2 separate regions of the Homo sapiens genome follow, and region 1 is linked to region 2. The links come from fine-mapping of genetic effects on gene expression. A gene starts in region 2. The other region holds a variant in brackets. All regions are shown on one strand. Distances are between the middles of the regions. Region 1 overlaps GYPC (glycophorin C (Gerbich blood group)). Region 2 holds the start of GYPC (glycophorin C (Gerbich blood group)).

The links.
Region 1: its variant is fine-mapped to the expression of GYPC in whole blood (TOPMed, PIP above 0.99).

What each region holds. Positions count from the first base shown.
Region 1 is chr2:126,686,441-126,702,517 of GRCh38, reverse strand. It overlaps GYPC (glycophorin C (Gerbich blood group)), which reads right to left. Exons shown (of 4, transcript NM_002101.5): 2 at 12,207-12,263; 3 at 8,571-8,654; 4 at 5,851-6,572. The coding sequence ends at 6,376. Among named protein-coding and RNA genes, the nearest start is that of GYPC, 38 kb to the right of the region's middle. The variant C/T (reference allele first, on the strand shown) is at 8,580.
Region 2 is chr2:126,648,011-126,664,087 of GRCh38, reverse strand. GYPC (glycophorin C (Gerbich blood group)) reads right to left here and starts at 7,930. Exons shown (of 4, transcript NM_002101.5): 1 at 7,776-7,930. The coding sequence starts at 7,824. RefSeq lists enhancers at 6,231-6,460, 6,651-6,900, 6,358-7,197, 7,991-8,280, a silencer at 7,531-7,900 and a cis regulatory region at 12,685-13,024.

The DNA.
Region 1 (16,077 bases), 38 kb before region 2:
GCAGGTTCCAATATCACCTCGATTTCTCTGCATTTGTCATCCCCTCACCTAGATAGCTCCTTCAAAACCCATGTCAGAATTCTCCCTCCAACAATCCTTCCCTGACTTCCCCTCAGGCCATTTGGTCCTCTGTGATGGAACCCTTGCAGCTTGAACTATTTTAACACATCTCTTATTGCAGCCAGTGTCCTCCAGGGAGCCAGTAAGGCCTTGCTCAGCTCCAAATCTCTGGCATTGCACCACCTGTAGTGTAAATGCAGAGAACATTTGTGTTCCGAATGAAGGAATTAATGGTGTTATCTCTGCCTGGGAGCTGAGGTCTGGATGCCTACCATCCTTTCACCCTAACACCTCCATTTGTTACCTTAAGAAGACAATGTCCGTGCACTGCAGCTATGAACAAAATGGTCCTTCCTGGGCTGAGCGCGGTGGCTCACGCCTGTAATCCCAACACTTTGGGAGGCTGAGGTGGGCGAATTACCTGAGGTCAGGAGTTCAAGGCCAGCCTGGCCAACATGGTGAAACCCCTTCTCTACTAAAAATACAAAAAATTAGCTGGGCATGGTGGTGGACGCCTGTAATCCCAGCTACTTGGGAAGCTGAGACAGGAGAATTGCTTGAACCTGGGAGGCGGAGGTTGCAGTGAGCCGAGATTGCATCATTACACTCCAGCTTGGGCAACGAGAGCAAAACTCTGTCTCAAAAACAAAACAAAACAAAACAAAACAAAAAAGGTCCTTCCCTGGAGAAAGGAGTGGCCTCACTCTGACTTGGGGAATCTCAGTAAGCCCAGAGGAAGCTTTATCTTGAGAAAGCTGAATATAGAACTTGTTTCTAAGTACTTTTTGAGAGAAAAAAAATGATAATAATTTCAGCTACTTGAAAAATAAAAGGTGGCTTTTTTTTTGTATTTGGTTCTAAAAAAACTAGGAGATCTGCATATCTTAACATCAGCTTTGGAGGTCTATAATGTTGGCAAGAGACCTCTTGATTACAGGATGATCTTAGAATAGAGGCTGGCGAACTCCACCCAACCTTATTGCCAGGGCTCTGGATTTATGGATCCACCCATGAACCAAAACATTCTCACAGCTGTATGCCTCTATGTGTTCCTGTCATAGCAAACCAATAAAAAAGACCAAGCCTGCAGTGAGATCTCTCATACACTGGCCAGAGGATGGAGAAAAGTTTTCTGCTTTAAACTCTTGCATGTGGTTTGAGAAACAGAAGATGTTTTTGATTTTCTGGAGAGAAAGCTGGGACACTTTAAAGACCTATGAGCCCTGTTATTTAGTTCATTGCATTGTTCATTCAACATGTATTTATTGAGTACTCACAGGTACCAGGCACAATGTTAGGCAGTGCCTACCTTTTTGGGAGACAATTCTCCATGGGTCTCTTGCATTTTTCACATCTGTTGAGTGAGGCAGGAACTGCACTGTGTTCTTGACTACCTTTTCCAGGATGTTTGTGTATTAAACAGACTTGGAAGACCCAGTAGTAGCTCCCTCCAGTGCAAAAGGCAGGCATTTTACTGCCCATTATGAGATTCTGATTTTCTTGGTTCAAGATTTCTCTTCTGGAACTCCACCCACCATATGGATAAACATCCTCTGAGATCACCCACATCACCCACGTCTAACTTGGAGATGAAGAGATGCCATTCAAATATGCTGATGTCATGCTGCTTGCTGGGCTGTAAGTGCCTTTATCTCTGACCCAGGTATCTCATGTCTTCTGTCAGCATCTATGAAACTGGTATAGGCCGAATTGCTCACTTAAAAGCAGGGCAAAACCTCAGACCCTTCACAATTCTTGGCAAGTTTATATCTTCCTTTAACTTACTATTCAAAACATGAAAATGCAAATATTTTGTCACCATGTTACTGGTAAGAACCGTGGAGCACGGAGAAGTTAAGTAACTCTTCCTAGGTCACGCAGAGCTAGTTAGTGCCTGAGATGAGATTTTTGTCCAAGTCTGTCCAATTCCAGAGCCACTCTCTTTTCATAGCATCATGCTGACATGCTAAATTGCAAACATTAAAATGCCTGTAGTTCTACTTGTGGCAGTGGGCCAGCTAAAGTACTGTTGGCCCCTAAATCATTCCCGTTGCTATGATGATAAAAATCTTTAGGTAAGGAATGAAAAACAATTGAGCAGATTCTCTCCAGGGAGGACAAAAAGATAAAATCATGAAGGGGAGTTCCTTCCATTAAAAAAAGAAGAAAAAATTCTCTCTAATATTTACATAACAATTGGCTCAAAGCCTTGACCTCCTGCCGCTTCTTCTGGTGAATAGATGAGATCCATCTCTCTCCAGGCAGGATGGGCCAAGTCATGTGAAATTCAGACTAAACAATGGAGCAGCTGGAGGAGTGGGTGAGCCCCAGGGTGGGGAGGCCTCCAGCTCCACAGGCAGGGTCTGAGCCTTGCTAGATCTTTTGAAGCCCCTTTGTGAATTTCCATGGTGCATTTTCATCTTTTGTCTTGTTTAACTTGATCATTATCTTATCCATATGATAGAGACTGACTTGTTCCTTCAGTGACTCTTTATTACCTATGCAACAAAGTCCTAATTTCTTAGCTTGGGACTGAAGCCGCTCTGTGGTCAAGCCCTTATATACTGTGCAACTGGCCCAAGCCTCCCTTCTTCTCTAAAGCCTTTCCTAAGTCCATCTCACTCCCAAGATAGAACTGATCTCTCTCTCCTTAGTGTTTTAAATTGATCTGTATCACTACTCTCTCAGCATCCATAATACTTTAGGGCTTATATATATTTACATGTTTATCTTCTCCCCTAAGCTAGGGACCCCTGAAGGCAGAGGCTGCTATATTCAGCTATGTAATTTCAACACTTACATGGTACCTAATAAATGTTTGTGGATTACAGCTATATACTCAGACACACACACATATATATTATCTATCTGTCTCTGAATCTGAAATTTAATCACTAAATACTCTTAGTTTGGGAATGAGCACTTTGAAGAAGCACAAATCATCTAAGAAGTGTTGGTAGGGATGCTTTGGCATGATGTAATCTAGATGATCACTTTCCTTTTCATAAGACTGGCCTGGGTGCAAGCGTCCTGGGTGCTGGAAGTGTGGATGAGGTGTGACCGGGCTGGCAGCACTTGCTATCTCTATAAGCTAATCATCCCACCAAGAGCAGATAGGCTCCACTGCATTATCTCTCGCCACCAGGAGAGACCTCTCAACCAGGCCAGCTCTGACTAGGGATGGGGATGCTGGCAGAGGTGCCTGGGCCATCACTGTCCAGGGCCACTGGGTGGCAGAGACCTGGCTGGGGATTCTCTGATCCCAGCACTGGTCAGTCATGCCAGCATCCATGAGTCTTGATGCCACCTGCTCTGCTCCCTGGGCAGCTCCTGCTGACTCATCTCAACCTCCTGAAGGGAGGCCAGACAGGCCTGAGTTAAATGGCTCCTCTGCCATTAGAAACTGTGAGACCTCCAGTAAAGCTCATTGACCTTTCTGCACCTCAATTTCTACAGATCTAAAGGGAGGATAAGGATATCCACTTGCCAGGATTATTTCGAGGATTAAAGGAGGCTTATGTGCAAAGAAGCTGGGATTTTCTACAGACAGAGCTCTGTCCCTTTCCCTCTTCTTCCAGCCCTTCTCTGCCCCATCCCCTCTCTTCCTTTCCTCTCCTCTTTCTTCCTTCTTAACAGTCTTTTTGACTCTTTGGTGTGTGCAAATTTGTGCATTATTTACCCCAACTAACACTGGTTGCAGACGTGCTGCAGAATGACTTAGTGCATTGCTGGAGGAAGTATCAGATTTAAAAACCTGGTCCCTAATCTAAGAGAGGATTATTAATTGCCCACAAGTGTCCACCAGTGTGCACTCTGTGTGTGTGTGTGCATTATCTCTTTAAGTTGCCCTGCTCTCTGGTGTGGCCATCTGGCCTCTGCAGTTAGCCTGCAACAGTTCCCTCCTCGTGGCATCTGAGCTAGGCCACCTGGGACAAACCAGCTCTGCAGCTTCCATGTCATCACTACTGCTGCTGAGCCTGATTCTGGCTGGGTCTGGGGACCCAGTAGACTGGGAGCAGACTGTGTTTCAATTGTTTTCCAGGACACTAGGCAGGCAAAAGAGTGAGGATAAAGGGAGGTGAGGAAGGGGAGGTGAGTGGCCAGGGAGTCAAGCTTAGTATAGACAGCCCCTGGGCCCAATGAGGGAGAAAGGAATGAGTTACCATCATCCTTCCCCCACATAGGCACCTGCTCTCTAGGAGGCCTCGAGAGCCCTGGGCTCATCCTCTTCTGGAGCCTTTTCACCCCAATGAGTGTCTATGTGTAGGTTCTGGTGCCTCCTCTGTGCTCACTGGACAGTGATCTGTGCTCCCAAACCTGGAAGATGTGGGTGCTCAAAAACCTGAAATGGCATTGCCACAGGAGGGGATGTTAGAAACCATTTACCTGAGTGTTTCCAAAATGTGCTCCGAGGACCACTTGGTCCACGAGTTCCTAGCAGGTATCGTGTGAGCAAATGGGGTCTCTGGTTCAACATGCTTGGGAAAGGCTATGTGCACAGCTCCCCTCCCACCAGTGTCAGCATCCACACTGGGCCAGTGAAGACGCTGAGGAGCCTGCACTGCTTTCACTTTACATGATACATCATTTTCTAAACTGACTTGTGCATATTCATTGGGCCTATTTATCGCCATTTTTGCCACACTGGTGTTCTGAAGATCAGTGTGGGCCATGCAGATACAGCCAAGCCCTTTATTTCATAGATGAAGGCCTGCGAGCTCGGGTCACCAGGAAAAGGTCTCACTTTTGGACCAGGCTTCTGCCATCACTGCTTCTGTGAGCTCCCAGCTCATCTCCCCCACCACGGCCCCAGGATTGCCAGCTCCTCTGACAGGTGGACCCCCCACTGAGCTCACATTCCCCGTAATCCTCCCAGGGAGATCTTTGGGACCTTTCTGCCAACTCCCAAGTGGAGATGGTGCAGCCTCAAGAATCCTGAGCCCCAGGGAGTACCTAGGTGACCCCAGCACCTGGCGTGCAGTCTTTAACCTCATAGCTGCTGGTCCTTGGAGTGACAGCTGAGCTGTTGGGAATCTTGGAAAAACTCGCCTGGAAGGGGATGGTTAACCAGTTCATCTTCTCTTCCTGTTACTCTGTGATTTTGAGTGACAGCTACTCCTCAGGAAGTGTGCAGAAGTAGTGCAATGAAGAATGTTTGTTTACCGCTGCACACAGTTGCTGACACTGGAAGACAGGGAGGTCTGAGCACTTGACCCTCAACGCTGGGAGTCAGGCACAACAGAGGTGTCATTATCAGCATCATTTGTACGTGAGGGAGGAGAACACGGGGGCCAGAGGGGTCAAACAAGTTGTTCAAGGTCCTGGGACCAGGAAAGGGGAGCTGGGACCCAAAGCCATCGAGCGGAGCTCTGCAGCCTCTGCTTCCACCCCTGGGTGCCACGGTCACTGTGATTGGAAGGACAAGACTCACTCATATTTTTGGATCAGGTCCATTTGTTCTAATACTGCACCTTGGAAAATCAACACTTCAGCTAGTGCCCTGGCCACTGGGAACGGCTATTTCTAGAGGGACATTTCACCCTTCCTTTTGTTTCCTGCAGCTGGTGCCCCTGTAGGGAAAGGAAAGCTGGTCACTTGTCCTTCCTCCCTTGGCAGGCTTGGGAGCCGCCTGTACTGGCTGTGCTCTCTGGGAACTGGCCCCCACAAGAGCCAGAAATGAACTGTCCTGGCCCCGTCAGAGAATATAATATTGCACAGGTGAAAAGCAAGCCCTGGGTGGCGTTTATCTTTCCCCAGATAACTACAGTAATACTGTTGGACTCGGAATGCTCGGTTACATTTCAAATTTATTTCCAATCGTTCTGAGCTGGATCAATGGCAGACAAAGGTACCTTTTAGCTCTGGCACCTGCTGTTCCCCCCAAATGTCAAGGACTGACATTTGATGCCATTATCCCCAGTCAGCATACAGATGACTTATTTCCTTGCTTCCCCAGCCCCCGGGTACCCCAGCACCCCCTCACCCTCAACAAGGACTTTCCTGCCAGTGAGCTGATGTTGTCCTGCACTGCCCAGGGGGCCCCATGTGCCCAGATTTTCTCCCACCTCCGTGGAGCAAAAGGTGGCCTCTGGGGTGGCCATCGCCTCCCTGGGTCCCTGGGAGTGGCCTCTTGTAGCGCGAGTCCTCCTCCGTTCCTCCCTGGGCAGGCACCTAGTGTTTCCAGGTGGCTATCTCGGGAAGAATCAAGTGCTCTCTCTCTCTGTCTGGTGGTATCAGCAGGGGTGCTGGGCGATGGGGTGTATTTTTCCTGATGGAGATGGGGGAGGCATTCAGGGAAGTGAAGTCTGTTGTCCCTCAAATAAAGTACTCCTTTCTGCTGCTATCACCAGCATCTTGGAGGGCAGGGTCTCCCTGCAGGGCTGCATCTGCACTCTCAGCAAACTCCGTGCCCTTGGCCTCATTGGTGTGGTACGTGCCCTTGTGCCGGTACATGTAGCGCAGCATGACGAAGAGGAGGGAGACTAGGACGATGGCCACAGCAGCAATCACACCTGCAGGTGGGAAGAGGTGCAAGGGTCAGTCTGAGGCAGGGGCTCTGGGGCCTGGGATGGTGGTCAAGACCCACAGGGGTTGTGTGAGGACAGATACAATGCCACAACCAAAAGAGATGCTCCTTGATTTATGATGGGAGCCAGGTTCCTGTAAGCCCATAATAAGTTAAAAATACTGTAAATGAAAAATGCATTTAATACTCCAAACCTACTGAGCATCGAAGCTTGGCCTAGCCTACCTTAAGCAGGCTCAGAACACTTAACATTAACCTAAAGTCATGCAAAATCATCTGACCCAGAGACTATTTTATAATATAGTGTATCATACTATATATTGCCAGCCTGGGAAATGGTCAAAGTTCAAAATTCAAAGTACCGTTTCTACTGAATGCTTTTGCATTCACGCCATTCCAAACTCAAGAACTCATAAGTTGAACCGTGTACACTGGAGACAACTGTACCAACACCAAACAGGCCAGTTCATTCCTTCCCCATGCTTCACCAACCTGTTGTGTGGTGGCACTGTAACCTGTGCCTTCCTAAAATGATTCTCCTTTCCTCTTCCCTCCTCTCCTTCCTTCCCTCCCTTTTCTTTTTCTTCCTCACAGTTCTGCTACTAACCACTCTAAGCACTCTGCAGACACGTTAGAATCATACCCCAGGACTGAACCTTGTTTGGAGATTTTCCGTTCTAAAACCAGGAAAGTCCCAGAAAACAGGGCAGAGCTGGTTGCTCTATGTACACTATACAGGGGGAAAAAAGATGAGGCTATTAACTGTGCTTGGGGAAGGTTGTGTGGTTTGTGTTTTTCAATGGCCTGATGGCTGCTCCTCACCCTACCCTGCTCCCATTCCCTCCTGGGGACTGAGGACGGGGCGAATCTGCTGGAGGAGCAGGACTTGGCCACACAAAGGACTGAAGTGGGAGAGGGTAATGCAGAGGATGCCAAGGTGGTGGCTGTGCGAGGGGCGGTCACCCCTCACTTCTGCTGGGACTCCAGAGGGGTGGGGAAGTACAGTGTGAAGCTGCTCAGGAGGGGTCAGATCACTCAGGACCTTGAAAGTGAGGGGGCAGCAGTCTCATGGGGTGGGGGTGTTTTGAGTTTGGGCATTTACTTTGAAGCTGCAGAGCAAGCCTGTCTTTTCTTAGAATGCAGGTTTATTTGGAGGCCTTGGGGAGGGACTGCTGAAGAATATGGAAAGTCTGAAACTGCTCCCAAGTCCCACCTTTATAGAACAATTTCCTAAACTTCCTACTGCCTTCAGGGGAACACTTGTATCTGCATAATGTTAATAATATCATCTAGGAAGAATAAAAGCTCAGTGGTGCAATGAGTTGGAGAATGCCAGGTTACACAGAGTCCAACAGGTGTCTTTGATTGCTTGCTTCTGCTGCTTTTTCTTTCTTTTCAAATTGTAGATGTTTCCTGAGTTATTAATAAGCTGCTGAGAAGTGTGGATCTCAAAGAAGGTCGCAGAGCACACAGCACCTCCCAAACTTGGTTGTTCTTCAAACACAGTTTGCAGTCACAGCCATGACCCATGGGGAGCCCCTTGCCCAGGGTTCAAAGCAAGGCAAAGGCAGGATCAAGTTTCCTTGAGGATGGAGGGTTGAGGGTCATGGACCCAGGGCAGAAAATAATGTGGGATGAGGGAGATGGTGGAGAAGTCTAAGTAGCCTGGTCAGTCTACCCTCATCTCACCTCCACCCTCAACCTCCTTCACCAAAACTGCTGCCTCTCCAGCTCCTGAGTTCCTGTGAGTCAAAAGCCCTGAGAAAGGCCAATAAATACATACATAGATACGTACGATGTATGCATGTATATATATATTTACCCAGGGCTAGACTCCTCCATTCCACATTCAAAACCACCTCTGAGGGAGAGAAAAAATGGCCACAGCCACCACTGCCCAAGTCCTTAGGTCAGTTCTCCCCTGGATGTTTTCACCAAGGCCCCCCACCCTGGCTGCTTGAAGGGCTCTGTGATGAGAGCTCACCTGCAATGA[C/T]GACAATGTCCATTATGGTGGGGGTGGAGGTCTCCATTCTGCCATCCGGCCATCCAGACATCCCTGGATCAGGCTCTGTGAACAGAGGACAAGAATCTGAGGTCAGAGAGGAAGATTCTCCATGCCTAGCAGCACCTTGGCCCAAGCTGCATCCTTTGCTCAGGTGTGAGCAGCTCTGAGAATGGGTCCAAGTGGAAAGGAGCAGTGCGGCGCACCCACTGCTCCTAGCAGGGATGCACAGACCAGGAACCAGGTTCTGCTTGGTCACTGACTGGGATGGAACTGTTTGAACCTGAACCACCAGGTCACTCCAGGCCCATTTGAGTTATCTGCCTAATGCCTGCACTGAGAGTGGTGCTGCACGTGGTAGATGCTCAACAGATATCTGTGCTGTGTATGAAGGCAGGGACTCTTGTTGTGTTTAAGAAAGAATGTTTGTGGAGTGTCTGATGCTCACACCAGGTGTCTCAGTCCATTTTGTGTTGCTATAGCTGAATACTTGGGTAATTTATAAAGAAGAGAGGTTTATTTGGCTCACAGTTCTAGTGGCTGGGAAGTCCAAATTGGGCAGCTGCATCTGGTGAGGGCCTCATACTACTCCCACTCATGGCAAAAAGCAGAAGGGGATCTGACATTCGCAAAGAGACCACAAGGTGATATAGAAAGCAAGAGAGTTTAGAAAGCTGAATTTGCTTTTATAACAACCTGCTCTCCAGTGACTAATCCAGTCTCACGACAGCTAGAACTCCCTCCCTCCCTCAAGGGGGTATTAATGTATGCATGAGGGATCTGCCCCTGTGACTCAAATATCTCCCACTAGGTCCCACCTCCCATCACTGCCACCTTGGGAATCAGATTTCAACATGAGCTTTTGCAGGGTCAAACCACATCCAAACCATAGCACCAGGTGTTGCTTTAACTGCCTTCTATCTACTCTATCATGCAGTCTTCACATCCATCCTATGAGGTGCCTGGTGTTAATGGCCCATCTCACAGGAAGAACACCAAGGTTCAGAGACGTGATGTGCCCTTGATCACACAGCTCATCCGATATCAGGTCAGGACTTGGCCAGTGCTCTTGCCTCTGGAGTGCACTTTCTCTCTTGGAGAAGCCCTTCCCAGGGCTCCTGTCTGAGGAGTCATTCCTGAAGCCCTCCCATAGGTCTTTACATTGACTCTGCTGTGGGAAGGACCACTCTATGACACTATCCAAGTTACTGAGTGTGTTTTTTCACAGCTTAATGACCTGGCCAAAGAGGGTAGGATGTCTAGGACATTGGGGACCGGGATGTTTCCTAGAGCTGCTGCACAGAATGCCTTCTCTCCTCTGGGAGATGATTGTGAAGAAGGATTTATTGGATCACAGAAATATCAGTGTTAACATAGGAAATCCCACGTTCCCATTACAATGGCTCTACATAATAAAACAGAGAAGGATGCTTCATAATAGTCATTTCCACTCAGATAATCACTTTAATTATAGTGCTATGAGGTCATTCTCCCCAGTGCAGCTGCCAGATGCCTCTTTCTTATAAGTAACTGCCTGCTGGAGTCAGGAGTCATAATGGGTGAGGGGAAAACAGACTCCCAGCTAGGGGTCCACAGCAGGACACAGATGGGCCAAGCTAGGGGTGTCTGGGGCCACCAAGGAGCTTGGAGGTGGGGAAGAAGATAATACAAGGCACTGAGGCAGCCCAGGGACCCAGTGAACACTGGCTCAGGATCTGGGTCTCGGGAGCCAGGAACCAGGCAGGGTATAGGATCCAGCATTCACGGTGTTTCTCAGTAGCAAGACCTGAAGCAAGGGCCGTAGCAAGTTCAAGTGGGTGCTAGACTTTATTATATAGAGTGAACAAGTGCAGCCTCCAGTTTAGTATCTAGCACATAGTAGGTACTCAATAAATATTCACTGAATGCATGAGTAAATGCATGCATATATAAATGAATGGATTTAGTGGTGGGGTTCTAGACTTTTCCAATCAACAAGCACCTCAAAGTTCAGAAAGAAAGAATAACACCTTGCTTAAGTAGGCATGGATGGTTATAGAAGCTCAAATACCCAGAACTGCCCTCAGAAATTTTCCAGGTGAAGACAGCATTTATTAGGACAGTTTGTCCAACACAATCAGCGTTAGAAGAGACTGTTATTTCCTCTTCCTTTAAAACAACTAACAATCGCTTACTAGGTGCCAGGTGCAGGTCTCAACATTTAAAGCAATTTAACATGGTCCTTGCAACAGTTGCAAGAACACTGCTTGGAGATTATTCATTCTAAAACCAGGGAAGTCCCAGAAAACAGGGCAGAGCTGGTTGCTGTATGTACACTATACAGGGGGAAAAATGAGGCTATTAACTGTGCTTGGGGCAGGTTGTGTGGTTTGTGTTTTTCAATGGCCCGATGACTGCTCCTCAGCCTACCCTGCTCCCATTCCCTCCTGGCGATTGAGGACTGGGGTGAGTCTGCAGGAGGAGCAGGACTTGGCCACACAAAGGACTGAAGTGGGAGAGGGTAACGCAGAGAATGCCAAGGTGTTGGCTGTGCGAGGGGCAGTCACCCCTCACTTCTGCTGGGACTCCAGAGGGGTGGGGAAGTACAGTGTAAGGCTGCTCAGGAGGGGTCAGATCACTCAGGACCTTGAGAGTGAGGGGGCAGCAGTCTCATGGGGTGGGGGTGTTTTGAGTTTGGGCATTTACTTTGAAGCTGCAGAGCAAGCCTCTGTCTTTTCTTAGAATGCAGGTTTATTTGGAGGCCTTGGGGAGGGACTGCTGAAGAATATGGAAAGTCTGAAACTGCTCCCAAGTCCCACCTTTATAGAACAATTTCCTAAACTTCCTACTGCCTTCAGGGGAACACTTGTATCTGCATAATGTTAATAATATCACCTAGGAAGAATAAAAGCTCAGTGGTGCAATGAGTTGGAGAATGCCAGGTTACACAGAGTCCAACAGGTGTCTTTGATTGCTTGCTTCTGCTGCTTTTTCTTTCTTTTCAAATTGTAGATGTTTCCTGAGTTATTAATAAGCTGCTGAGAAGTGTGGATCTCAAAGAAGGTCGCAGAGCACACAGCACCTCCCAAACTTGGTTGTTCTTCAAACACAGTTTGCAGTCACAGCCATGACCCATGGGGAGCCCGTTGCTCAGGGTTCAAAGCAAGGCAAAGGCAGGCTCAAGTTTCCTTGAGGATGGAGGGTTGGGGGTCATGGACCCAGGGAAGAAAATAATGTGGGATGAGGGAGACGGTGGAGAAGTCTAAGTAGCCTGGTCAGTCTACCCTCATCTCACCTCCACCCTCAACCTCCCTCACCAAAACTGCTGCCTCTCCAGCTCCTGAGTTCCTGTGAGTCAACAGCCCTGAGAAAGGCCAATAAATATAAATACAGATACATATGACATACCTATGTATATTTATTTACCCAGGGGTAGACTCCTCCATTCCACATTCAAAACCACCTCTGAGGGAGAGAAAAAATGGCCACAGCCACCCCTGTCCAAGTCCTTAGGTCAGTTCTCCCCTGGATGTTTTCACCAAGTCCCCCAACCCTGGCTGCTTAAAGGGCTCTGTGATGAGAGCTCATCTGAAGTCACGGCAGTTTCCATTATGGTGAGGCTCTGTGATGAGAACTCACCTGCAATGGTGGTAGTATGCATTGTGGTGGAGGCAGAGGCCATCCCCGGATCAGGCTCTGTGAACAGAGGACAAGAATCTGAGGTCAGAGAGGAAGACTCTCCATGCCTAGCAGCACCTTGGCCCAAGCTGCATCCTTTGCTCAGGTGTGAGCAGCTCTGAGAATGGGTTCAAGTGGACAGAGACAGTGTGGTGCACCCACCGACTCCTAGCAGGGGTGCACAGACCAGGAACCAGGTTCTGCTTGGTCACTGACTGGGATGGAACTGTTTGAACCTGAACCACCAGGTCACTCCAGGCCCATTTAAGTTCTCTGCAGTATGCCTCCACTGAGAGTGGTGCCTGCATGTGGTAGATGCTCAACAGATATCTGTGCTGTGTATGAAGGCAGGGACTCTTGTTGTGTTTAAGAAAGAATGTTTGTGGAGTGTCTGATGCTCACACCAGGTGTCTCAGTCCAATTTGAGTTGCTATAGCTGAATACTTGGGTAATTTGTAAAGAAGAGAGGTTTGTTTGGCTCACAGTTCTAGTGGCTGGGAAGTCCAAATTGGGCAGCTGCATCTGGTGAGGGCCTCATACTGCTCCCACTCATGGCAAAAAGCAGAAGGGGATCTGACATTCGCAAAGAGACCACAAGGTGATATAGAAAGCAAGAGAGTTTAGAAAGCTGAATTTGCTTTTATAACAACCTGCTCTCCAGTGACTAATCCAGTCTCACGACAGCTAGAACTCCCTCCCTCCCTCAAGGGGGTATTAATGTATGCATGAGGGATCTGCCCCTGTGACTCAACTATCCCCCACTAGGTCCCACCTCCCATCACTGCCACCTTGGGAACCAAATTTCAACATGAGCTTTTGCAGGGTCAAACCACATCCAAACCATAGCACCAGGTGTTGCTTTAACTGCCTTCTATCTACTCTATCATGCAGTCTTCACATCCATCCTATGAGGTGCCTGGTGTTATTGGCCCATCTCACAGGAAGAACACCAAGGCTCAGAGACGTGATGTGCCCATGATCACACAGCTCATCCGGTATCAGGTCAGGACTTGGCCAGTGCTCTTGCCTCTGGAGTGCACTTTCTCTCTTGGAGAAGCCCTTCCCAGGGCTCCTGTCTGAGGAGTCATTCCTGAAGCCCTCCCATAGGTCTTTACATTGACTCTGCTGTGGGAAGGACCACTCTATGACATTATCCAAGTTACTGAGTGTGTTTTTTCACAGCTTAATGGCCTGGCCAAAGAGGGTAGGATGTCTAGGACATTGGGGACCTGATGTTTCCTAGAGCTGCTGCACAGAATGCCTTCTTTCCTCTGGGAGATGATTGTGAAGAAGGATTTATTGGATCACAGAAATATCAGCATTAACATAGGAAATCCCGTATTCCCATTACAATGGCTCTACATAATAAAACAGAGAAGGATGCTTCATAATAGTCATTTCCACTCAGATGATCACTTTAATTATAGTGCTATGAGGTCATTCTCCCCAGTGCAGCTGCCAGATGCCTCTTTCTTATAAGTAACTGCCTGCTGGAGTCAGGAGTCATAGTGGGTGAGGGGAAAACAGACTCCCAGCTAGGGGTCCACAGCAGGAAGCAGGTGGGCCAAGCTAGTGGTGTCTGGGGCCACCAAGGAGCTTGGAGGTGGGGAAGAAGATAATACAAGGCACTGAGGCCGCCAAGAGACCCAGTGAACTCTGGGTCTGGAGTCAGCACCTTGGGAACCAGGAACCAGGCAGGGTAGAGGATCCAGCATTCACAGTGCTTCTCAGTAGCAAGACCTGAAGCAGGAGCCATAGCAAGTTCAAGTGGGTGCTAGACTTTATTACAGTGAACAAGTGCAGCCTCCAATTTAGTATCTAGCTCATAGTAGGTACTCAATAAATATTCACTGAATGCATGAGTAAATGCATGCATGTATAAATGAATGGATTTAGTGGTGGAGTTCTAGACTTTTCTAACCACTATGCACCTCAAAGTTCGGAAAGAAAGAATAACATCTTGCTTAAGTAGGCATGGATGGTTATAGAAGCTCAAATACCCAGAACTGCCCTTAGAAATTTTCCAGGTAAAGACCAGCATTTCTTATGACAGTTTGTCCAACACAATCAGGGTTAGAAGGGACTGTTATTTTCCCTTCCTTTAAAACAGTTAATAATTTCATACTAAATGCCAGGTGCTGCTCTCAACATTTAATGTATTTTAACTCAGACCTTGCAACATTTCCATTCGATAGGAGTTATTATTAGCCCCATTTTCCAGATTTGGCAGCTGCGTCCCAGAAAAGTGTTATTTTCCCCGGCTTGTACCTTGAGAGTCAGAAGTCAATCATTTGAAGCCCTGGCAGCCTTGAGTCAGTGTGTTTAGCCTTACAGGGCACTGCAAAGTGTAGAGCCTTGGTAAGCTGGTTTCCAGGTGAGATATTTGGCTTGAACAACTTGGGGTGCATTTCTTGGCTTCTGGTTAGGGACCTTGTACTCAAATCTGTATACTGGGAGACTACACACACTTCCAGCAGGGCAGCCAGGCTGGGAGGGGAGGTAGGACCTGAGAGCTTCGGGGCCTCATTGGGAGACCATTGGGATTGCCAGCTGGGCCTCCCAATGTGGGCTCCCTCCAAGCTCATGCCCTCTGAGGAGCGTGGTGGGCAGGAAAGTTCCCTCAGCTGGAACTACTCTCTCCATGCCCCCCACCCCACCAAGTGTGTGGAGCTGAATTTACACATGTTTCACAATGTGACAGACTCCAGGGGAGTGACATTTCAGCCCAACCAGAGCTGCCCTATATTGATAGATCAGAATCAGCATAGAGAGGAAGCTCAAGGCTGTCTGGGAAGGTGTGGATGCTGTGAGACAGCAATTCTCAAAGCATAGTCTCTGGATACACAGCATCCTCTGGGAGCCTGTTAGAAATAGAAATTCTCAGGCCCCAGCCCAGACCTACTGAAGAAAAACACTAGGACTGGGACCCAGTAATTACTATAGTAGATTCTGATTCATGCTGTAGGCTGGGAAGTGCTGGTGTAAAGAGGGCTTCCAGAAGCGGTGACATCAGGATTAGTCCTTTAAGGGCAAATAGGAGTTTGCTGCACAAAGCCTATAAGCATTCCAGGCAGAGAGCTCAGCATCTAAGGCAGCTCTCCCCACTTCTCAGCTTTCTCCCCAGTGTCTGCTTGCCATCCACGGCTCCAAGGCTCCGGAAGCCTCTGGAGATGGAGGGGTGAGAGCCCCCCTTGGCGCACTCCCTTACACTGTACCCATTCAGCTAGCAGCAGTGATATCAGGTCTTTGGAGAAGACTGGCTGAGTGAGCTCAGATCCAGCCCAGAAAGTAGGTGGTTGGTCTGCATCCAGCTTAAGGGGCCTGGAATGAAAGCCTGCCCCTTGCTGGAGCTGAGGGATACTTCTGAGGTTGAGATTAGGATCATGCTGAGCTCAGCAACTAGGATGGGGGTGATCTGCGGGCAGCCTTGGGGGTGGGTTCATGGCAGAATAAGGTGTTGATTACGGCCAAGCTTGGGTCTGGTATCAGAAATAGACAATTACCCAGCACAACGATTGGACAGACATGAGAGGACCTATTTTTTGGAAAGACCCAAGCATCCTACTTTTTTTCTTCCCAGCCCTCCTCCAGGTTGCAAGGTCCCCCCGGCCCCCTGCAACACCCTACCAGACAGGAAGCTCCACACGTTCAGGCTTGTCTTGCTCACAACTCTATACTCAGCATTAGACTGGGTGCCTGGCACTGAATGACAACTGCTGAATGTTTGAAAGCCTTCTGGGGAACCACGAACCAACTAAACTGCAGCCTTCACTATGCTCATCTTTGTGGAGTTGGGAGTGGCTTTTCATCCATGGGATTTGCCATTGGCTAC
Region 2 (16,077 bases):
CAGGGCATGATCAAGCAAGGCCTGGCTCCCCTCCCAGGAGTTTGGGACCTGGAAAAGCTGGAAAAGGCTGAGAAGGAGCTTTCTCCAGAGAGAGAGAGAGAGAGAGAGAGAGAGAGAGAGAGAGAGAGAGAGAGAGACCAGAACCTTAGAGAGACCCAGCTCCAAGCCCATTCAAAGGGGAGCATGAAGGAAAAAGGAGAAATGACTGCCTAAAGAAGACATTGAAAGGTAGAGCGCATGAGGGCCAGGTGAGCCGAGGGAAGGAGGCCCCCGGCTTCACACTCAGGGGAGGGGCACTGGCAGACAGGGGAGAGGTCAGGGGCTGAGCTGAGAGGAGCTTAGAGTGCACCAGGGTCAGGGCCTTGCCCAGGGCAGGGAGAGGGTGCAGTGAATGCTGGGGCCCAGGGCACTCTTTGCAGACCTTGTTTGCCTACATGGATGGACCTTCACATCCCTCCATCCGTTTGCTGACTCATTCACTCATTCCTTCACTCATACGGTGCTTTCAAAGAGCCTACTCTTCTCCATGGAGAACCAGATGGCCCAGGTATGAGTGGTTGAGGGGCTGGTGCCCCGATGAGGTGGGGGCAAAGATGACCTCTCTCCAGGGTGATGTGAGGAAATGGAGCTCCGGAAGGTAAGAGGCTTGCTCCCCATCACACAGCTGGCGTGCGTGGCCAAGAGCAGGGCCTGCGTGTGTTTTCTGGGCTGTCTCCACCGCAGTGCTGACTCTTGGATAAAAACATGAAGGAGGCTGGGCGTGGTGGCTCATGCCTATAATCCCAGCACTTTGGGAGGCCAAGGTGGGCAGATCAGGAGGTCAGGAGATTGAGACAATCCTGGCCAACAAGGTGAAACCACATCTCTACTAAAAATACAAAAATTAGCTGGGCGTGGTGGCACATGTCTGTAATCCCAGCAACTCGGGAGGCTGAGGCAGGAGAATTGCTTGAACCAGGGAGTCGGAGGTTGCAGTGAGCCAAGATCATGTCACTGCACTCCAGCCTGGGGACAGAACAAGATTCCATCTCAAAAGAAAAACAAAAACAATAAAAACCATGAAGGAGCAGCATCGGGAGCGAGAGGGCCTTTCCCTGGTCTCTGTGGGACCACACAGATGCAGATGGCCCCCTGTCATTGGGTATGACTTTCAGTGGCAAAGGGGCAAACATCTGAGGAGTCTGGAGAGCAAGGAGGGAGCAGGGCAGTGGGGAGGAAGCTGGCGTTTAAGCACACACGCACACACTCAGTGAGCGGAAGCAATTAAGCACAATTATGAGCACATACCAGGCACTACACTAGGATGTTTATCTGTGAGAATGCACTGAATCCTCCGAACAAAGCCCTGAGGTAGAGACTGTTATTAGCTCCATTGACAGGTTCAGGACTAGCCGTAGAATTTGCAGAGCCCAGTGCAAAATAAAAACATGAGGCCTCTTATTCAAAAGAGAAGAATTTGAAGATAGCAGTGACAGAGCATTAAACCTAGGAAGTGCGGGACCCTGCTGGGCAGGTCCCATCCCTGTGAAGCCATCCCTGTGCCAGACGATGGACCAGCAACTTGTCCCAGGTCACAGCCAGCTCATAGTGGATCCAGACCCAAAACCTCATCCTCAGATTTCAAAGCTAACCCTTTATCACTAGCAAATTGACACAAAGTCTATTTGAGCTAAAGGTTTAAGAAAAAATACAGAAGGGGAACCTGAACTTGAAGCTTCAAGCATTGCTAAGGCCTGTGTGTAGGTTTCAGCAAGAGCACTGGATGAGTTTCTCAAGCGAAAGTGGATTTCATATCCAATGGGCCCCTGTTGCCCGGTGAATACAGGAGAAGGGCTTGGCTGGGCCCCACACCAGAGGCATCATTGTTTTATCAGGTTTTGATCTGGCAACCCATAATTTCCCCCCTTTTAAGACTGTGCTGAGAATACATGTGCTCATCGGCTGCTGACAAAATGTGAAGATTCTCCATGCCAGAGTTCAAGGAGGAAGAGTGGCAGTGCTGGGCTGGGTCAGCTGGAGACCCTGTGCCTGAGCCCCTCGTAAAAATGCCCACTGCGTGTGGGAGCAGCGGGTGTGAGGCGCCCTGGCAGTGGCTCTCTGCGAGGATGTGTCAGTCAAGACCATCATGTGCAAAGTGCAGATAAACAGAGCCATCAGGGTGTGCCAGGGGTGCAGGGAGATAACCAAGGCCACCCTGCCCAGGGCTGGCTCTACATGCCCCGAAGCGGAGCTTCCTCCCCTGAGCCCTGGAAAGAGGTCACTGTTGTGCCTGCTGGGCCCCAAGCAGTGTGTGACCACAGTGTTTTGGCAATAAGAGAAGGGGCATCTGGTAGGCTGGGCACAGTGGCTCATGCCTGTAATCAATCCCAGCACTTTGGGAGGCCAAGGAGGGTGGATCACCTGAGGTCAGGAGTTCGAGACCAGCCTGACCAACATGGAGAAACCCTGTCTATACTAAAAATACAAAATTAGCCAGGCATGGTGGTGCACGCCTGTAATCCCAGCTACTCGGCAGGCTGAGGCAGGAGAATTGCATGAACCCAGGAGACGCAGGTTGCAGTGAGCCAAGATTGCGCCATTGCACTCCAGCCTGGGCAACAAGAGCAAAACTCCGTATCAAAAAAAAAAAAAAGAGAGAGAGAGAAGGGGCATCTGGCTTTCACATGCATAAGCAGAAGCAGGAGAGACTAGAATGCAATTCCATAGAGAGTTCTGAAGGAGGGGTGGTGACGCCAGCAGAACGGGAGAGGGAGCAGGGACCACAGAGCCAGGCAGGTTGGCAGCAAGTCTTGCTCTGCCCCCATCTACAGCTGGGGGATGCCAGGCGAGGCAGGCACCCCTCACCAAGCCCAGGGCTCACTTGTGAAGGGGTCAGAACTGCAGAGGCTCTCCAGGGGCTGGAGAAGTCATGCCAGGGTCCACCCAACCCTCGCCTTGCCTAAGAAGGAACCCAGTGTCGCCGGCCTGGCTCTGCCTGCACATGGGAAATGGGCTCTTGCCAGTTTCTGCCATGGGTTAAGATTTTGTATAGGAACATTGTTCTGGAAGAATGTAGAAAAATGAAAATGTATAGTCTAAGGAGAGGAGCCAGCATTCTGTCAGAAGTTCCGATTATGTAAGGATCTGAAGAAAACCCCAGGCCAAGATGAGAGGGAGGTGGGGTAGGGGAAGGGAGTGGATATGAAAATGAACCCCAGCTGGGTGAGAAGGTGGGAAGGACTAGGTGGGATTCCTGGGGCCCAACAACTGTGCCTTTAGAATTTGTTTGGGGTTGACTCCTGTCCATTTCAACTTAGTATTTACTGGCCTCCAAGTCCATGCCAAGTTCTGGACCAGGAGCTCCTGAGTGAAGGCTTTTTAAAGGCTCTTTTGGTATTGGAATGGTGGCAGTCCTGGGAGCGTGGGCCTTGGGTCATCCCTGCAATCATCCACCTGCCTCAAAGTGGCTCAGCAAACCCCTGTCTGTGACAGGCCCTGAGTGGGGGACAGGCGGGGTCACAGAGCCCCTGGAGAGGTCAGAATTCTGGGAAAAGGCAGACTCAGGAATCTGTCAGGGCTGCAAACTGTGCCCAAGGCTGTGGTGGGTCGTTTTCTAGGCTTGGGAAACTGGGTCCTAGCAGACCAGCAGGTGAGTGTGTGCCAGGCCCGCGGCGTGTTGAGGGGCCTGTCGTGAACAGTTGTGAGAGGTGCAGCTGGAAAGGCAGCAAGCCTGGGACGGTGCGTGAGGGAGGGCTCGAGGGCCACCCCGAGCCAGCTGCTAAGGCGGGCAAGGGCAGCAGCAGCCCAGAGCATGCCAGGCCTGACCACAGAAAGCACAGCATGGACACAACGGTGGACTGGGGTGGGACACAGGCCCGGCTGAGGAGCTGGGGGAGGCAGGCGGGTCCTGAGTGTCTGTGCATGCAGTTCCTCAGTGTGCAGAGCCACAGCAGCAGGCCCTGCCTGGCACATACAAGCTGTGGGCCCACATACCCTGCAACTCTCTCCTTGGGTTGGCCTCAGTTGCCTGTGGGGTCTGGCAGTTTGTAACTACAGCCTGGCTGCGCCCTCAGTGTCTGGGTGCCCTATGGCGGCTTATCTCCCCCGAGCCTCTGGTGTTTCATCCGAAAGTCTCTACAAAAAATACAAAAATTAGCTGGGTGTGGTGGCGTATGCCGGTAGTCCTAGCTACTTGGGAGGTTGAGGCAGAGAATCTCTTCAACGCAGGAGGTGGAGGAGGTGGAGGGTGCAATGACCTGAGATCACACCACTGCACTCCAGCCAGAGTGACAGAGCACGAGACTCTGTCTCAAAAAAAAAAAAAAAAAGAAAAGAAAGAAAAAGAAAAGAAAATGCCTATCATAGCAGGTGTGCAGGGGAGACCCAGGAAAGCCCCTTACCAGGGCTCGGCATCTAAGTTTGTTGTTATTTTATCAAAAGCGAAAAACAACAGCTGTCTGGAGGGTGACTCCTGAAATTACCAGCATCCTCAGGCCAGGTTTGCTCCAATAAATTTCGCTAACAAAAGCCACCTCCCAAGCCTCTGCCACTGGGAGCAGGTCCAGGCCCTTCTGCTGTTGCTCTTCGGGTGACTCTGGGGAAGTGGCTGTTATCATTCCCACTCACAGATGGGAAAACTGAGGTGCTGAGGTATTTCCTCTCTCTCCCAAAGCTGGTGAACATTGGAGGGCAGTCAAACCCAGGGCTGACTCCACAGCACGGATGTTGCTCTGGCCTCTGCTCTGCCCCTCACTCGTCATGTGATGAGGACATGTCCTTTCACTTCTGGGGCACGTTTCCTCACGGGGGTGGGGTGCTGACAGGAAATGGACAAAAGCATCAACCGACACTTCCCCGAAAAGTAATACAACCTCTTATGGAAGTAAGAAAACATGCTCAGTCTCACTTAATTACAGAGGCTCATTCCAAAGTGACAGCGTTTGTTTTGTTGTTTTACCTCTCAGTTTGGCCAAGATAAAAAATGCAGTGTGAGTGAGGACGCAGGGAAATAGTGACTTTCATAGGCTATTTGTGAGCATGAGAAACCGGTGTGACCTTTAGGAGGGTAGTTTCTTAAGATCTACTAACATTTTAAATGAATACACACTTTGTCCCAGAAATCAAATGCTGAGGTGGGAGAATTTATCCTAACAGTTTACAGACACATGCATGTAAAATCCTCCTTACTCATTGTCACAGGACTGCTGTGTGTGGTTTAAAAAAATTAAATGAAGTCTGCATACAGCCTAAATGCCCATCAGCAGAGGAACTGATTAAAGAAAATAACAAGGTATAACCTTTAAGAGATATTCTGATGGAAAAAAAACAAGATGAAGTAAAATATATAAAATGCATTTTTATTATGTAAAATAAGAAATATTTGTATCAGCAAATTTACTTCTAGAAGGATTATCCTCAATAAATAAAGTAATTGCCATTGAGGTAGGGAGAAGGTGTCTTTCTCCTATTTTTAACTCTTCATTCACTGTTAACTTTACTGTTTGTTTGGTTTTGTATTTAGAGCGTGCTTGTTGGCCCACTGGGTATGCTCAGTTACTGGAAGATGTTTTGGCTGTGGCCTCAGACAGGCACTTGAGGCATAGATGTACATACAGGTCTGCCACCTGAAGAGGCAAACTGACTTGACTTGGCCCAACCTCTCACCTCTGTTGAGGGGACCTCTTCCTACTCACTGCAGATGGGTTCACTTGTTCCCACCACAAGCGCAGAATGCCTTGTACTTCACAACCCTTTGCTCCCCAGGGAGCTCTGCAAGTCCCCAGAAATACTTGCCCAACCACGGGCACCCTTGGAAGGGTCCAGCTGCTGACCACCAGCATCATGTGACTCCCAGTGCCAGTGACATCTGGAGGAATTGAGCAATGGCTGAGGTGGAATTTCATTTGGCACTTAATGCAATCCTCTGCTTCTGCCAGAGGCGGTGAATTCTATATAAAGCTGCCAAACCTGGCCGTCTTCTCACTGAGCCTTGACCCCTTCCATCCAAGGGCAAGGCAATGGATTGCTGTGCATGACTCACGCGCAGTAACTGTGGCATTGGGGCCTAGCCCAGCTGAGCTGAGCAGAGCAGGCCGGCCTGGCGGAAGTGGGTCCTCTCCGCTCTAACCTCTGGCTCTGATGAGCAGCTACATAAACTGAGACAGGATATAGACACATCCTGCCTGAGTTAGCAGCAAGAAATAGCCGCCCCCCACCCCCCCTGCAGTTCTCGCACAGCAGGGATCCTGCCATAAATCAATCCGAAGTCTAATGTGGAATGGCTTGCAAGCAAGGGCTGCACCGCTGTTTGTCTCCCAAGGCAAGTGTTGAAGGTCTGAAACCTGAGTCCTGGAGAACTGCTTGGGCTGCTGGGCTGGGCTGGGCACGGGGGCGGGGGTCAGGCAAGCCCATCCTCTTCAGACATGAGAATGCCTCTCAGCCTCACCTCCTCAGTGACTGAATTGGAATAATGACAGTGGCTCCTGTCCCTTTAACCCAGGACCTGCCGTATACACACACATAAACATATGCTCAAGTTACGTGCTCCGGGAACCACAGTCTCATGTGCAATTATATAAACATGCCCAGCACGGATCCAGCACTTAGGATGTGTCAGACTCCGTGCCGGGACATTTATACGCACTTCGTGCTGCTGGATGAGTTATCTCCTGTTATTATTCCTACTTTCCTACTTTGCAGATGAGGAAACTGGAGCTAAGAGAGGCTGCCTTGTTTATAGGCAGTGCAGATGATCCCAGTGCAGACTGAGGGGCCTCGCTCCCAAGCACCACTGATGCCTGCGCACTCCCAGGCTGACGCAAGCACAACCACAGGCACATGGAGTGCCGTGTACACACGTAGACCGAAGCAGCACTCCTCCACGCCAAGCTCCAAGCTCAGGCGGGGTGAGGGGTGAGGCCTCACAACCCCCTGGATTTCAAAGACTTATAAAAGAGTTGGTGTCTCCAATACCCATATCATTATCATATCAATAAGGTATCATTGTCACATGATAGGCTCAGGGTATCTCCTCTCTGACAGACTCTAAGAATCAGACCGCGGCAGGGTGGGGGTAAGAGGGATGTACATTACGTTTTTTGGTAAAATCAAATGGTAGTTTTTATTGCAAAAGTCCAACGGCAGAGGAAGAGGGCAGAGAGAGGCCCAGCAATGTTTCCAAGCATCTACAAAGACTTTCATCACAGATGATTTCCTCTCAGCAAGAAAACGTGATGGTTTAAAAGAGAAAACCAGCAGCGAGGAATTACAAATCCCCAAAGGATCCAGGCCGCAGGATTCCCTCGCATCTGTGTGCCTTTGCGGCGCCCAGCGGAGCGAGCAAGTCCCTGGGCAAGGCTGGAGTTGCCTGGAGTTCACCGGAGCCTGGCCGGTCGGACCCTGGCTGGGGAGCAGCACAGAAGCAACTTGTGATGTGAACTCTCACCTAACTGTTCTTTAGGGAGACAATTCTGGCCCCACACATTTCACATGCCCCGCACAAAGAAACAGAAAGCGGGCGACACGCCCTGGGAGGGCGGGCTGGCGGCTTCTCCAGCTCGGAGCGCGTGGAGGCTGCGCGTAGGGGTCCGGGACGCGGGACAGGGACTCCGCGCAGCCCAGGCGCCGGGGAACCGGGGCTGGAGTCGGGGATCTGAGCCCAGCGGACGCCTCCTCCGCCTGGAGGCCCGGCACGGACCGGGACACCAGGGCGTCCGTGGCCGTGGCTCGGCCCCTGGCTGCTGCGGGCCGCGGCCTCCAGTGGGTCCCCAGGACCCTTCCCCACGGCGGGTACTCACCGAGGCTGAGAGGCCACGCCGTGCTGTTGGGGCTTCTCGTCGACCACATTCCTGGGCGTCAGCCCGGGCAGAGACCGCGGGGACTGGCCAGGCCGGGCCAGGCCGGGCCGGGGGAGGGTCGCGCTCCCGGGCTCCTGACCCTCGGCGGCGAGAGGAAGCGGCACCTGGGTCACACTCCTCCCGCGCGGGCCGAGGGGAGGGGCTCTGGCCCGGAGATAGGCAGACTTCATTTATTTTTTTTCTGCAGACTTGGCTGGTGGGGTTTCCACCCCCTTTTTTTTTTTTAAACACACACCCGCCCACTTCTGAACTCTTCTTTGCTCCAACTTTCCTGCGCAAGAACCACGCTTTTCTAACCGTTTCTCTTTCCATCTGCCACTACCGGATACAGAGGTTGTGGTTGAGAATTCCCCCTGGAGTGCAGGGAAAACTCCCCAATGTGACATGATGGCCTGGCCCAGCACTGTCGGGGATGGTGACCAAATAGGGCAGACCTGTGTTGAAATCTTGGCTGGCTGCGCGGCCGCTGGATAGCTGGGCGGCCTCTCTCAGCTGCGGGGCATTTGTCCCTGGAGAGAGTCCCTGTCTTGTTGGCCTTTGGGGGCCCTGTACTCATGGATGGGCTGTTGAGCAAAGATCATTCCAAAACAGGAAGAATTGCTGGACAAGAGTCGTGATTTGTTCCCATTGCTTTTGTCTGAAGCTGCCAGACACAGTGCAGTTTGTGAATTCGCTCTACTTTTGCCATGAAAATCTCCACGTGGATTTCGATACATACCTTTGTTGGTTAAATGCAGTCAAATGGCACCACCTACAAAAAATGTATCATAGCATTATCTGCCCCTTCTGCCCAGAGACAAGGGCAGGGAACTTGAGGCCCTTGTTTTAAATCCCCACCCAGGGGAACACCCTGTGCTTCTCCTGTGTGATGTCTGAACCTTCCTGTGCTGCTTTTCATTGTTTACTTTATAGTTCCCCAAGCACTTTTGTGACGCCCACCTCTCCCCTACCTTCTGCCATTAAGGCCTATCCTGCACAATCCGGAGAGCCAGGCCAGCTGTCTGTACAATGTATGGGCGGTGCCTTTGGGACTGTCATCTGCATTGAATACAATGAGAGGCTGCGCCCTGGAGATTTGCAACACAGAGGCTTTGCTCACCTCTAGCCGGGCTGCACAAACTCCAGGCCTTCTTGACGCAGTGGGAAAGCACTCATGATTCACTTTAGTTAGATCATGAAGAACCCCCGATGCTGATAGATCTTTACTCCAACTGCCATGTGCAGCACAGCCATGTTGAATTGAAATAAACTACTCACAGAATGCCTTTGGCCTGGTGGGGAAGCCCTGAGTCTTGATTTCCTCATCTATAAAATGGAGGCAAGAACACCTGCATTCCGGGGTTTTACAGAGGCAGTGATTGTAGAATCACAGTGGGAACAGAAAAGGCATTTAATAAACAGCAATGAGTAATGATTAATTTATTTTTATTTATTTATTTATTTATTTTTCTGAGACGGAGTTTTTGCTCTTGTTGCCCAGGCTGGAGTCCAACGGCGTGATCTCGGCTCACCACAACCTCCGCCTCCTGGGTTCAAGCAATTCTCCTGCCTCAACCTCTCGAGTAGCTGGGATTACCAGCATGTGCCTCCACGCCTGGCTAATTTTGTATTTTTAGTAGAGACGGGGTTTCTCCATGTTGGTCAGGCTGGTCTCGAACTCCCGACCTCAGGTGATCCACCCACCTTGGCCTTCCAAAGTGCTGGGATTACAGGCGTGAGCCACTGCACCCGTGATTACTTTAACAGTTTAACTTTTTTTTTTGGTAATACATACACATACGTCTACGTGGAACAGTAGTCCCGCTCCTCTGTCCTGAGAGAAAATAACTTTAATTATCTGAAATGCAGCTGGAAAGTTGGAAAGAAGCAGAAAGTTCTGCCAGGTAACAACGGACAAGTCATTAGGTCATTGCAGCACACTTAGAGAAGTCACTTTTACAGACTCATTTAGAACCTACTGGCCTTAGACGTAATCATAAGAGATTTCCTTAATTTCTTAGGGTAAGACAGGTTGAAGGCATCAAAATGTTGCAGAGAATTCCTTACAGAAAATAAGCCAAAAATTAATAAACTAACGAACTAAACAGTGAAAATTGAAAGCCCCACAAACTGCAGAGGTCAGATACAAGAACGAAGTAGCATTTGTTACAGAACTAAAGCAATCTCAGCTCCAGCCATCACTGGAGGATGTGACAGTTCCTTGCGCTATTAAAGACCACAGGGCTTTGGAACTCAATCTGGGTTAGTTACTCTACTGCCTACTAGCTGCGTAACCTTCAGCATTTCACTTTCTTTCTCTGAGCCTCATTTTTCTCAGCCTGGAAATTGGAGCAATCTGCAAAGTTAGGCTGTTGTGAGTAATATATTCGATAATAATTAAAGAGGTAATTACAATGAGAGTACACTGGAGTTACTTAAAGATATTGGCCCCCTTCCTCCTCTAACACATACTTTGTTCATAGTAAGGACCCCAAGTCATTTGAAAAAGAAAGTAAATAGTGTGTCTTAGTGTGTAGCAAATTAGCTAACAGGGAAACATTTGACATATTTTAGAAAATTTAACTATGAAAGTGTCTAATGTTAAATAAATGACTCTTAAGAAGGGAAAATAATTATGTGAAAAATTTAATTATATGGTAACAGTCTGACATAAGTCAAGAAATGTATTATTAGTGTGTCTTCATGTGTTGGATATTTATTAATGAAGTTAAAAAAAAAACTCAGCTATATCTTGCAATAATAAACCAGTTCTTATCTTGTCTAGTTCCCATAAATACTCTTAAACGGAGTATTGCCAAGAGTCCATTGTAAAGATGAGAACCCAGAAGTTCAGCACAGTGACAAGAACTTGCTCTGCAGTGCAGCCGGGATGGACGGTTCTAGCTGTGTCTTCATTGACTGTCTGTGGCTGATACAAGCTGCAGAGCCCTCCAAGATGTGAGATGGTATGATCCAGTCCTGGAGATGAATTTTCTCTTCCTCTTCAGGGAAGAAACTGCTCATGGGAAACTGCCTTCCAAATCCTCAGTGCTAGTTCCTTATTGGGAGTGGAGTTGGCGGTCCCCTGCTGCTGTTGCTGTCTCCTGGGTGAGCCCTTACAGATGGTGGTAGGTAGATGTTGCTTGGGCCTTTAATGAAAGGTTTTGCCCCTCATCACAGTAACACATGCTCTTTGTGCAAAAAGAAAAAATAAAAAAGAAAAAGCCAAAAAGATACCTAAACCCTAAGAATTGCTTGCAATCTCCAGCACATTAAGGTTATTTACCTTTAGTCTTTTTTATGCATTTACGAATATTTGCTTTATACTCTTGAGATTTTACTGAATACGTGATTTCAAGTGCTGAGCTTTTACTACTAAACATTATGTCATGAGCATTTTCTCATGTAAAAGTAGAAAAGCTCTTTAACTCATTTTAATTACTAGGTTGTTTCATTTTCTTTGCTGGTTGAATAGTGCTGTGATAACCATATGAACATAAATATCTGGATTTCATAATTTTTTCCTTAGGGTATATTCTGACAAGCAGAATTACTCAATCAAAGGTTACAAATGCATTTAAAGCTTTTGATACATTCATAAGTTCTGGCTGTGACCTTTACTTTCTTCCCAATCAAGAGTACCAGTGTTTATCTCAGAGTCTCTTGCCAGAATTAAACAGCAAACTTAAAATCATAGTTAATTCCATAGAAAAGAAACATACATAGTTATTTGTGTCAGCATTTTCTTTGATTACCAGAGAGGCCGAATATGCTGTCAGTTGCTTATTTACAAATCACAGCTTCTTTTAGGTGAATATTTTGTTCACACTGTTTCCTCATTTGGAGGTGTGATGGTTAATACTGAGTGTCAACTTGATTGGATTGAAGGATACAAAGTATTAATCCTGGGTATGTCTATGAGAGTGTTGCCAAAAGAGATTAACATTTGGGTCAGTGGGCTGGGGAAGGCAGATCCACCCTTAATCTAGTGGGCACCATCTAACCAGCTTCCAGGGAATATAGAGCAGGCAGAAAAACATGAAAAGGAGGGATGGGTCTGGCCTCCCAGCCTACATCTTTCACCCGTGCTGGATGCTTTCTGCCCTGGAACATCAGACTCCAAGTTCTTCAGTTTTGGGATTTGGACTGGCTCTCCTTGCTCCTCAGCTTGCAGACAGCCTATTGTGGGACCTTGTGATCATGTAAGCTAATGCTTAATAAGCTCCACACTATATATATATATACAGATCCTATTAGTTCTGTCCCTCTAAGAGAACCTTGACTAACACAGATATTCGTACCAGGAGTGGTTCTAGAGGAACAGAATATGAAGGATGGAGTTCCTTCATTTGTTTTGGGGTTTCTGGAGTTGGCTGCTTAAGATGATTAGACCCCAAAATGCTAAGGAATCTACTTCTAATAGTATGGAGAACACTGATAGTCCTTGGCATGAACTGTTTAGAGAGTTATGCAAAATAAATGCATTTGACACTCCTGATTCTTCACTCGTGAGAGGCCAGTAGTTTAGTAACCCTATACATAATGCCTTTGACCATATGTGGAGAAACAAGGAACATATTGAAGCTGGTTGGTTGCCCCTAAGTTCGGGGACAAAGTGATGAAAAAAATGATGAACTCAGGGATTCTGTCTCCCGGCTTCAGAAGCAGATACTGAGCCTCAAATCTGCTAAGACTGCCCTGAGCGAAAGTCTGAACTTCTATAGAGAAAGAGCTGAAATTGTGGAAAAACAGACACAAGTTCTTATACTAGTGGCTGACCTGCAATGAAAGATGCATGCACAGCCTCACCAGGTGTCTACTGTTAGAATGAGGGCATTGATTGGAAAAGAATGGGACCCTGCAACTTGGAATGGGGACATGTGGGAGGACCCTGATGAAGCTGGGGACACTGAGTTAATAAACTCTGATGAACATTTTTGGCCAGAAGTAACAGCTTCCCCATCCCCAGTAGTGGCAACGTCCTCTCCCCCACCCATGCTGCTATCAGCCTTTCCACCTTTGTCTGAAGAGATAAACCCTGCGCTGCCTGAGGCAGTTGCCAGGCAAAATAATGTTGATTCTCCTCAGAAGCCACCCCCAACACCTCTGTTTGCTTCTAGGCCTATAACTAGACTAAAGGCTTGGTGGGCCCCTAGAGGTGAGGTGCAGAGTGTGACCCATGAGGAGGTGCACTACATTCGAAAAGAACTGTTTGAGTTCTCTAATTTATGTAAACTGCAATCTGGAGCACAGGCATGGGAATGGATATTAAGGGTGTGGGATAATGGTGGAAGGAACATGAGTTGGATCAGGCTGAATTTATTGATTTGGGCCCACTAAGTAGGGACTCTGCATTTAATGTTGCAGCTTGGGGAGTTAAAAAAAAGTTCTAATAGTTTATTTGCTTGGTTAGCTGAAATATCGATTAAAAGATGGCCCACTGTGAGTGAGCTGGAAACGCTTGATCTCCCTTGGTTTAATGTAGAGGAAGGGATCCAGAGGCTTAGAGAGATTGGGATGGTGGAGTGCATTAGTCACTTTAGACCTACTCATCCCAACTGGGAGGGTCCAGAAGATATACTCTTGACCAATTCCTTGAGAAATAGATTTTTGAGGGCAGCAACTGCATCTTTGAAGAGCCCTGTATTGCTTTTCTCTGTATGTCAGATCTAACTGTGGGAACTGCAGTCACTCAGCTACAAAATTTAAATACGATTGGAATAATTGGATCCTGAGGTGGCAGGGGCCACGTGGCAGCACTAAACAGTCAAAGGCAAGGTGGCCATAGCTACCGTAATGGACAGCAGAGTCAAAGCGGCAATAAGAATAGTCTGACTTGTGTAGAGCTCTGGCATCAGCTAAATAATCACGGTGTTCCTAGAAGTGAAATTGATAGGAAGCCTACCACATTCCTACTTACATTATACAAATGGAAAACTTCTAGGTCAAATGGACAAAATACTAATCTGAATTATGAAAACAGAGAATCATGGCCCCTCAATCAATTTGCATACTTGAGCCAGTTTACAGACCCAGTTTACAGGCCGGGTCCCCTTGATGAAGGACCCCAATACATTACTGACAGTTTGTGCAATGAATCTTTCTCTCATCCTTTCTCAAGGAGACCTCCAGCCTTTTACCAGGGTAACTGTGCACTGGGGAAAGGGAAATGATCAGACATTTCAGGGACTACTGGACACTGGCTCTGAGCTGACGTTGACTCCAGGGGACCCAAACTGTCATTGTGGTTCTCCAGTTTAAGTAGGAGCTTATGGAGGTCAGGTAATTAATGGAGTTTTAGCTCAGATTTGACTTACGGTGGGCCCAGTGGGTCCCCGGACTCATCCTGTGGTCATTTTCTCAGTGTCAGAATGCATAATTGGTATAGACATATTTAGCAGCTGGCAGAACCCCTGCATTGGCTCCCTGACTGGTAGGGTGAGGGCTACTGTTGTGGGAAAGGCCAAATGGAAGCCATTGGAGCTGCCATCACCTAGAAAAATTGCAAATCAAAAAGAATACCACATCCCTGGAGGGATTGTGGAGATTACTGCCACCATCAAGGACTTAAAAGATGCAGGGGTGGCGATTCCCACCACATCCTCATTCAGCTCTCCCATTTGGCCTGTGCAGAAGACAGATGGAGCTTGGAGAATGACAGTGGATTATTGTAAGCTTAACCAAGTGGTGACTCCAATTACAGCTGCTGTACCAGATGTGGTTTCATTGCTTGAGTAAGTTAACACATCTCCTGGTAACTTGTATGCAGCCATTGACTTGGCAAATGCCTTTTTCTCCATTCCTGTCCATAAGGCCCACCTGAAGCAATTTGCCTTCAGCTGGTAAGGCCAGCAATATACCTTTACTGTCCTACATCAGGGGACATACTGATATACTATCCGGCTTTGTGTCATAATATTATTCAGAGATAGCTTGATCACTTTTTACTTCTGCAAGATATCACACTGGTCCATTATATTGATGACATCATGCTGATTGGATCCAGTGAGCAAGAAGCAGCAAACACACTGGACTTATTGGTAAGACATTTATGTGCCAAAGGATGGGAAGTAAATTTGACTAAAATTCAGGGAACTTCTACCTCAGTAAAATTTCTTGGAGTCCAGTGGTGTGAGGCCTGTCAAGATATTCCTTCTAAGATAAAGGATAAGTTGCAGCATTTGGCCCCTCCTACAACCAAAAAAGAGGCACAACATCTTGTGGGCCTATTTGGATTTTGGAGGCAACACATTCCTCATTTGGGTGTGTTATTCTGGCCCATTTATTAAGTGACCTGAAAGCCTGACAGTTTTGAGTGGGGTCCAGAACAGCAGAAGGCTCTGCAACAGGTCCAGGCTGCTGTGCAAGCTGCTCTGCCACTTGGGCCATATGACCCATCAGATCCAGTGGTGCTTGAGGTGTTAGCCTTTGGGAAGCTCCATAGGCGAATCACAGTGGAAGCCTCTAGGATTTTGGATCAAGGCCCTGTCATCTCCTGCAGATAGCTACTCTCCTTTTGAGAGACAGCACTTGGCCTGTTACTGGGCTTTGGTGGAAACTGAATGTTTGACTATGGGTCATTGAGTCACCATGTGACCTTAACTGCCTACCATGGCCTGAGTGATTTCTGACCCATCTAGCCATAAAGTGGGTCATGCACAGCAACATTCCATCATCAATTGGAACTGACATATACGTGATCAGGCTCGAGCAGGTCCTGAAGGCACAAGTGAGTTACATGAGGAAGTGGCTCAAATGTCCACGGTCTTTACTCCTGCCACCCTGCCTTCTCTCCCCGAGCCTGCACCGATGGCCTCATAAGGAGTTCCCTAGGATCAGTTGACAGAGGAAGAGAAGACTAAGGCCTGGTTCACAGATGGTTCTGCATGATATGCAGGCACCACCCAAAAGTGGACAGCTGTAGCACTACAGCCCCTTTCTAGGACATCCCTGAAGGACAGCAGTGAAGGGAAATCTTCCCAGTGGGCAGAACTTCAAGCAGTACACCTGGTTGTGCACTTTGCATGAAAGGAGAAATGGTCAGATGTGTGATTACATACTGATTCATGGGCCATAGCCAAAGGTTTGGCTGGATGGTCAGGAATTTGGAAGAAACATGATTGGAAAATTGGTGACAAAGAAATTTGGGGAAGAGGTATGTGGATGGACCTCTCTGAGTGTTCAAAAACTGTGAAGATATTTGTATCCAATGTGAGTGCTCACCAATGGGTGACCTCAGCAGAGGAGAAGTTTAATAATCAAG